Linked DNA regions of Homo sapiens: all the other regions are linked to region 2. Evidence: fine-mapped expression QTL. A gene starts in region 2. Each other region holds a variant in brackets. All regions are shown on one strand. Distances are between the middles of the regions. Region 1 has its middle 45 kb from the start of NAB1. Region 2 holds the start of NAB1 (NGFI-A binding protein 1). Region 3 overlaps NEMP2-DT (NEMP2 divergent transcript).

What was found. PIP is the estimated chance that this variant, and not a neighbour inherited with it, causes the effect.
Region 1: its variant is the best candidate, but not a certain one, in a credible set for the expression of NAB1 in whole blood (INTERVAL, PIP 0.60).
Region 3: its variant is the best candidate, but not a certain one, in a credible set for the expression of NAB1 in vagina (GTEx, PIP 0.89).

The regions. Positions count from the first base shown.
Region 1 is chr2:190,692,968-190,695,732 of GRCh38, reverse strand. No RefSeq gene overlaps it. Among named protein-coding and RNA genes, the nearest start is that of NAB1, 45 kb to the right of the region's middle. The variant C/T (reference allele first, on the strand shown) is at 1,338.
Region 2 is chr2:190,647,944-190,650,708 of GRCh38, reverse strand. NAB1 (NGFI-A binding protein 1) reads right to left here and starts at 1,626. Exons shown (of 10, transcript NM_005966.4): 1 at 1,349-1,626; 2 at 727-863. It also overlaps a transcript of NEMP2 not described here. RefSeq lists silencers at 1,116-1,715, 1,726-2,095, 2,126-2,175, 2,256-2,305, 2,316-2,365.
Region 3 is chr2:190,610,866-190,613,630 of GRCh38, reverse strand. The region is part of intron 4 of NEMP2-DT (NEMP2 divergent transcript); the gene reads right to left. It also overlaps a transcript of NEMP2 not described here. Among named protein-coding and RNA genes, the nearest start is that of NAB1, 37 kb to the left of the region's middle. The variant C/G (reference allele first, on the strand shown) is at 1,345.

The DNA.
Region 1 (2,765 bases), 45 kb before region 2:
TTGGGTTCATGATTTTAACATGTGTGGCACTACCATCTTGAACCAATGTGATGTACTTAATCTACATTTTGCAACATTATGTTTTGATGTCAACATTGAACTATCACTACTTCTCAGAGACTGAAGAAGCTGATTCTTTTAATAAGTTAGAATGGAAAACTTAAATAGAATTGTATAATAAAGCAAACATTTCAATAGAAACTTCTAAAACTTAAAACTGTATTTAGGTAGGTTTCTCGATTTACATAAATGTAGCATAATGCTCTGTGCAGAGGAAATTTTTTAAACATTTTACTGAAAGTTATTCTTAAGATATTTAATAACTAAATTGACTAAAGTGCACTAAATATAAAGTCAACAAAAATTAGGAGAGGTAATTTCCCACTTCAGTGTCTTGATTGTGGTAATCAGTATACAATGTACTGGTATAAAAAACCATCACACTGTATACTTCAATATCTTTTTGTCAAATATTTTAAAATTAAAAGAATAAAATGGAAAAATAATGGTAACTAAGGATTTCATATGGATGTTGAAATAAGAACTAAGATTACTATTTTATGTGAGTCTGATGTTCCTTGAGGGTTTTACCCCAATTGCTAAAAAAAAAAAAAACTCATTAAAAATTCCTTTAAGATGAAGTGGTAGAAGCCAGACCTTTAACATTATTGGAGCAATACTTTGAAAGTAAATCACTTAGCAGTCAGAATAACAATTTGGAAATTGTGACCAAATAGTCAAACACAGCTGGGAGACCTAGAATTTAACAGGACATCGTTTTAACACTTAAGAATTGTGTGACCTAACAGATGGGAAGACTATAAAAGAGTAAGGCTTAATTAACCAACTTTGTAAACAGAACCAGTTCACAGTTCCCTTAAAAGTGATTACGATTTGCTAAACTTAGAAAGTAAAGATTTGTAAGCTGAACTTAACCTTAAGCACAATACATTTTTGCATTCTAATAAGTTGATTATGAACTTAAAAAATAAATTTCTGATTAGGCTTTTCTGCACAAAAAAAACACCTTTGAGGTGATCACAAAAAAAAAAATGTCATAGGTCAGCAGAAACAGATGCCAAAGATTTTTTTTTTTGAGACGGAGTTTTGCACTGTCGCCCAGGCTGGAGTGCAGTGGCATGATCTCGGCTCACTCCAAGCTCCGCCTCCCGACTTCACGCCATTCTCCTGCCTCACCCTCCCGTGTAGTTGGGACTACGGGCGCCCGCCACCATGCCTGGCTAATTTTTTTCTATTTTTTTTTTTTTAGTAGAGATGGGGTTTCACCGTGTTAGCCAGGATGGTCTCGACCTCCTGACCTCGTGATCTGCCCGCCT[C/T]AGCCTCCCAAAGATGTTTTAAAGGTTTAACTGTTGCATACTCAGAAAGTAAGAAAAATCCTAGCTCCAGCATTTTGCTTTTGATCACTTCTACATGAAATAAAAAATTGTCTTACAGGATCACTATGGACATAGTTAACAGTAAGATTTTTGATATTAAATTGTATTTACAATAAAAATGTCAGGCACTGGATCATTCTCTTATTAACTTTGGAGGCCTACTTACAAATTTCATTTATGAGGACACCCACAGATAAGAAGCTTGCATTCCCTGAAACACCACCCATGCACAGCTGGACCATATGGTGGCTTTTAGTAAAAGAGCAACTACTGTATTTGGTCATTCAAGCTGTTACAAACATACAAGGTTTGTTCAATTCTAACTTCAGCTACTTACTAATTGAATTGATTTCCTAAAAGAGGCAGACCTTCTGGCTTCATCAGGTTGGTTAATACCTTGGTTTTCTTTTGAAGACTTGATGTAGTACATTAAGTCACAAGCAAAATGGGCATTGTGTTAATAATACTTAACTATTTTGAGACCCAAGTGGACAGACCATAAGTTAGGAAATTCCCTGCATACTTATTTAGCTTTTAAGTCTTAAATAGTGTCAACTATAGTTGTAAAGGTACACTAGGTGCTAGTAGTCTCATAATTACCAAATCCTAAAGCTTTTACCCAAGTGGTTTCACTAATTAAGGACAGATGAAAAGCACCTTTCCCCGCTGCCTTTTGACAGATTTAGTGGATCGTCAAAGGAATGATTACCCAGGCAAGCAGATCTAACTGCCATGCAGTTTCAAAATAAAATTGCAGTAATTTAACAACAACAACAACAAAAACAACAACAAAAAAGCAGCCTCAAAGTGAAATGTACTGCCACTATGGCTTTTTATCAAACTCCACCTCTGAATGTTGATTTCAGTCCTGACCGATCTCTTCTGAATCTCACTCACTGAATGTGCTTTCTCTCACCTGTGAAGTGCCTGCTACCACAATGTCTGCCTAATACAGAATGCACTTAAATGTCAGCTCCTCATCCCAATATGTAAGGCACTGAAATTTTTATGTGAGTGGTATTAGTTCCTACGCAGCTAGGTTTTGGGCAAGGATCATATATTTCGTTTGTGACCTTTACCTCTTCCCTGGCACCTAGCACAGTGCTTGGCACACTGATGATCTTCATTAATCTATAGAACTCATCAATACTTGCTGAAAGGTTCTTCCTGGTTCTTTACTACAGGTTAGCTCAATTTCATATAATTAACCCATAACACTGAACCCAAATCACATTAATATTATACATATATGTATTATAGATGTTAAATCCTAATGTTCCTTTTATTAATATTTAGAAATGGTGAAGTTTTAAAAACGTCTTCATAAACTTCTACATAAATGAGAATATAAATTGACCTCTCTCTGCC
Region 2 (2,765 bases):
CTCAGATTAGATCAGAAGCAGCTCTTTCAGGTCTTCAGGAAAAGCTCAATCTCCACCCAAAACAGAAAAAGCAAATCCTATGCATCCTCTCTCCTCATACTTCTTATAACCCACACACAAATTATGAAATATCATAATTCAGTATGTTGTTCAGGGAAAAATTTTCAAAAAAGTGAAAACCTAGGAAGGTAAGTCATTGCGTGAACACTTTTACAACAGCTAAGCATTTCCTACGTGACTAATCTATTTTAAATTCGGCTCCTCTGTTCCTATGCAATCTCATATTATCTATTAAAACTGCCAAAATATTTTTAAACAAGATCTGAGAATTCCTCTTTCAGCTTCTGATCTTTGCACTCTTTGAGTTGGCAGACACGTCACTGGCAAACCAACTGGTAGTGACAAGTTACTCCAAATCGACTCTTTCAGATGAAATTTTAAATTAACAGCCATCCCAAAATTTTCCGTGCCTCCCGAATCTCAGGGAGCGAGGTGTAAGTACATGCAAGTCTACGATTCCTCCCGATCACTCGCTGCAAAGCTTGGTCTGCAGAATCGACAAATGTATATTCCATCTCAACTATCCCTTTCCCCGAGATCCTGCAACATTCAGGCTTAACAGAAGTGTCATTTCCTATCTCAAGCTTTGGAAGCTCTGAGTTTGCAGACCACAAAGATTTGATAGTATTTTCAGTGTTTCTCCATGATAAGGTCACACACACACACCTCTATATCCAACGCTTGTATGTCCCACATGTGTTTCCAAATTCCTCATCGGCCTTAGAGACACAAAGAGTTTCTGGCTTCCCTGCACCTCAGCGCCAAGTTTCTGTAAGCCACTTCCATGTAAAACTCTCCTTCCGCTTTTAAAAAGAAAACTACATTCGGAAAGGGAAGATACCCAAGAAGAAAATCGAGACGGTAAGTGCAGCACTTTTATAAAGTAAACAAACAAAAAGACTGCCCTGACGAAGGTGGCTGCAAAACTCTGGGGCCGGCGCGCACAACCCACATCGCACACCCCCAGAGCGCCGTGTGACGCCCCCAGCCCCGTTAGCAAAACGGACTCGGCACCCCAACCTTTCTCGGAGGGAAAATGCACGAGTCAGGGCCGCGCTCCCCGCCGCCCTGGCACACAGAATGTCTCCGGGAATCGCCCACACGAGCCCGGGGCCGCCCTCTCCTTCCGGCGGCGGCCGCGCGGAGCCCGCTTCCCCCGGACACCGCCCCCAAAGTGCCCGCGTGGCCCCGCGACTCAGCCGCCCCAAGTTCGCCCGTGGCCGCTCAGCCGCGAAAGTGTCCCGCACTTGGCGGACCGGGAGTGGCGACCGTCCGCTCCGGTACGTACTCAGCCAGCGGCTGCAGCGGTCTTGGCGCGCTCTCCCCGAGGACTGCTCAGCCCCAACTCCGAAGCGACGGCCCCCGGCTCTCCCTCCTCTGGCGGCTGCAGGAGCCGGGACGCCCCCGCTCCCATCGAGGGGGGAAGGGAAGGTGGTGGGCGCGCTCTCTCTGCTCCCCCCCACCTCGGGCCCGCCGCTTCTTCCCGCCCACCCGCCCCGACGGCGCTCGCTTGGCCGCGGCGGCGGCGGCGGCTCCTCCAGGCTGCGGCGCGCGGGCGGCGGCGGCGGCGGCAGCGCCTCCCCCGCCGCGCCTTGCCCTCCCCTCCCCTGCCTTCCCCGCGCGCGCTACACCCTCCTCCCCCTCCCCCGCCCGCCTCCGCCGCCTCCACTCCCCCACCCCGCGCTGTCACATTGGGAGATTCCGCTCTTGCTACATTCGCCGCTCCGGCTCCCGCCCACGCGCGGCCGAGTGACGCAGATCCCGGCGTGGGCCGCCGCCGGGCGGGGGCGGGGGCGGCCGCTGGGCCCGGGGCTCGGCCCCTTCCCGCCGCCCCCTCCGCGGAATCCGGAGGACGGCCCATTCACACGGCAGCTGGGAGGAACCAAGTGGGCGCCGGGAGTGGGCGGCTCCCGCGAGTCCCGCTCCGGGCGCGGGGAGGGGACGACAAAGAGGGAGACGGGTGGGGAACGCCGCCTCCGGCCTGCTCTCCAGCTGCGGAGTGAACTGGGAAGGTTTGCAATTAAAAAAAAAAAATTATGTGTGAGGTTCCCGATATAGTATTTCAAAGAGCACACCCGCCAAATCCAACATCCTCTAGGAGGCTGACTTTAAAAAAAAAAAAAAAAAAAAAACAACAGCGCGCCGGGCTCCCCTGGCCCCCGCAGGCTCGGGGCAGAGGCGGGGAGGCAGGTGGTCCAGGTGCGCCCCTGCCCGGGGGGGCGAGGCGTCCGGCGGGAAGGCTGCAGCGACCGCATGGAGGAAGGGGCGGCAGGTGCGCGGCGCTGGAAGAACCGGCGGCTGGGAGAGCATCTCTGCCTCGCCCATCTTGCCCCCTCCCCACCTCCGCTCTGGCGTTGGGACGGGAGGAGGAGGGAGGAATGGAACCAGGGAGTCCGAAGTACAGCTTTGACAACTGTCGCGCTGGCCGGGTAATTTAATTCCAACCTTTTTAACCTCCTGAAAATCTGCCTTTTATTTTACTGTTTAATGTTTTTTGTGTCCATGGTGTAGAAAAACTACGGCGCTAGTATAGTGCTGGTGTGTGCTAAATTAGAGTTCCCAAGGCACAATATAGAATTTTTTGGTTTGCATAAACTTTGCTAACCAAAGTATTAAAGCACCTTCAAAAATGTACTTAGGCTGGCCAGGGCTCACGCCTGTAATGCCAGCACTGTGGGAGGCCGAGGCGGGCGGATCACCTGAGG
Region 3 (2,765 bases), 37 kb after region 2:
GGGTGACAGAGTGAGACTCCATCTCAAAAAAAAATAAATTATTGGTGAAGTAATATTAGAAATGTCTTAAGAGTTGCCAGCATACATTTTTGTTTGCATTTATTGATCAAGCAACTTTGTACTTAGCTCTGTCAAATACTATAAGGTGTCAAAATTTGGCGTAGAGGCTACAAAACTATAACTCAGCCCAAAACAGAATGATCTTTGCTGGTTTTTAATAAATAAAATGTTTTTTAAATAAATAAAACATTATTTTATTTATAGCTTGTTTTTAATAAATATAATGTTTTTAATAAAACATTAATATTGGTTTAATGAAGATAGCTACATCTTGAATTATTTAGTAAAATACCCTAATCTTGTGGCCTTAGGCAGTCTATTCCACAGACATAAAGAAAGTTCATCCTGGGAAAGGACTGTTATCATCTCTGTTTCAAAACTAAACTATGACCTTAGTTAATGAATAAGAATAGCTTTAAGGTAAGAAGTAAGATGGAGTCAGTTAGGTCAGATCATTTTCACTCTCTCAGTTATAATTTTGCATTGGTGATTTCATAACTTTTAATGATGACTATCACAGTTTTCATAAATAACATAGGTAAATGATTAAAATAAATAATTAGATAAATGTAATGGGACAAATATTTGCAGAATCCAAAGTTATATTAAATTAAACAACAGATATTTCATTATTTAGGTATTTTCCAATTAAAATATATTGTAGGAAAACATTCATTCTAAAAATTGTGTCCTTTTTAAAGGGTAAATAATTTTTGTCTAATTCAAAGCTTATTTAAAGGTTTTTTATATATAAAACAAGGTAAAAGGAACCAGGAAATAAGAGAGATATAAAGTAAGTTGTAAAAATAAAGAGAGTTTTAAAGTCTATTGGTAAAATAAAAATATCTTCAAAAATGTAAACATTTGGTCTAAATTATGCAGGTCAAATATTAAGTTTGCTAAATGCTTTAGGTCATAAACTTTTTTTGACTTAAAAAATTGTTCAATTTATTTTGGAGTGTTAAATTCTAGATAAGCCCTCAGGACACATGAAATTAGCCATGCCCCTAGCTATGCAAAAAGGTATTAAAGAAAAGATATTTTATATAATGAAGGATCTTGTGTGGTAAATTCTTGTCCTAAAGTAAAATAACTGGTTGTTTAAAAAGAGGGATGTGGCCGGGCGCAGTGGCTCACGCCTGTAATCCCAGCACTTTGGAAGGCTGAGGAGGGCAGATCACGAGGTCAGGAGTTTGAGACCAGCCTGGCCAATATGGTGAAACCCCATCTCTACTAAAAATACCAAAATTAGCTGGGCGTGGTGGCACGCACCTGTGGTCCCAA[C/G]TACTCAGGAAGCTGAGGCAGAAGAATCGCTTGAACCTGGGAGGCAGAGGTTACAGTGAGCCGAGATCATGCCACTGCACTCCAGCCTGGGTGACAGAGCGAGACTCCATCTCAAAAAAAAAAAAAAAAAAAAAGAGGGATGTTTAGGACAAGTCAGAAAGTCAAGTCAAGGCATGTCATAGCTTGTCTGTGTAGTCATGAAAGAATTTATGAAAGGGAATTTATGAAAGGAAAGAAATGTACAGTTTGAAGGTGATTAGGCCTCCTGAATGTTTTATAAAAATGCCACTAAGACTCTTAGCTGTACAACTTGCCTGGTGTACAGCTAGGTAAGGCCTGGGACACATGGAGTTTGAAACTGGAATAAGTCGGACCTTATCTGCATTTCTGCCTAGGTCCAAGGCTCCACACCTAGTACATAATTAAAATCCCAAACTTACCAAGGTTTTCACCAAAAGTAAAGGTTGCTAAAAGTTAACAGTGTAACATATATTTAAAACTATTGAAGAAACAGTTTACATGCAAGGTGTGTAAGGAAAGCAAAATATACTTCTAGTAAAAAGATTATAAGGAGTCATGAGAATGTGGATTTTTGCCTAGATTAAAAGGTTAAAGGACTGTTTTAAGTTGGATAAAATAAAGAGGAAGATTTAAACAAGTTGTGGAAGGTTGATTATAAAGGAAATTTTGTGTGTAAACATATTGGCCAAAGTTAAAGGGGTATCATCCAGTTTTTCTGTAAATTGAACATTAAAATAAAAGCACAGTGGGTTTCTCTTAAAGCACTAACCTGCTCTTTAACAAAAATTGTAAAGGGTTATAAAAGGTCTATACAAAATCTTACCTTATGGTCAAACATTAAAATTGGGTAAATCTGTCTATAAGGATTTGTTAAGAATTGGGTTTAACATTAATAGCACACTAACGTAAAGGTGAAATTTGGTTTATTTGGTATAAATATTATACAGAAAGCATTGTCAAATATGAAATGGTGTTTGGCTTTCTTTGGGCTATATTTGTATAAGTATGTTATTTGTATGTGTTCCAAAGTTATGGGAGACTCCTATAATTCTGATACATCTTAGTGTATGTTATGAGTAATAATTATAATTGTTGTGTTAAATTATTGTGTGCCACAGAGGTAACAGATATCCTTGTCAATTGTGTGTTTAACTATGGCTACCCTAAAACTTTTTGTCATCCATAATCAATTGTTGTCTTGTTTTGGTCCTCTGTAGAAGGTGATTTTATAATCAGCTATAAAGCTCTAACAGGTGCTCTTGAATGCAGGTTTCTGATAACTTTGGAGATGTGACATCAGAATAGAGGAAAAACGTTCAGGACTCTTGAAGAGTTAAAATATTCATTAGTATCAAGCAGGACAGGAATTAACTGCATGAACTGAACTAATAGGAGACTGA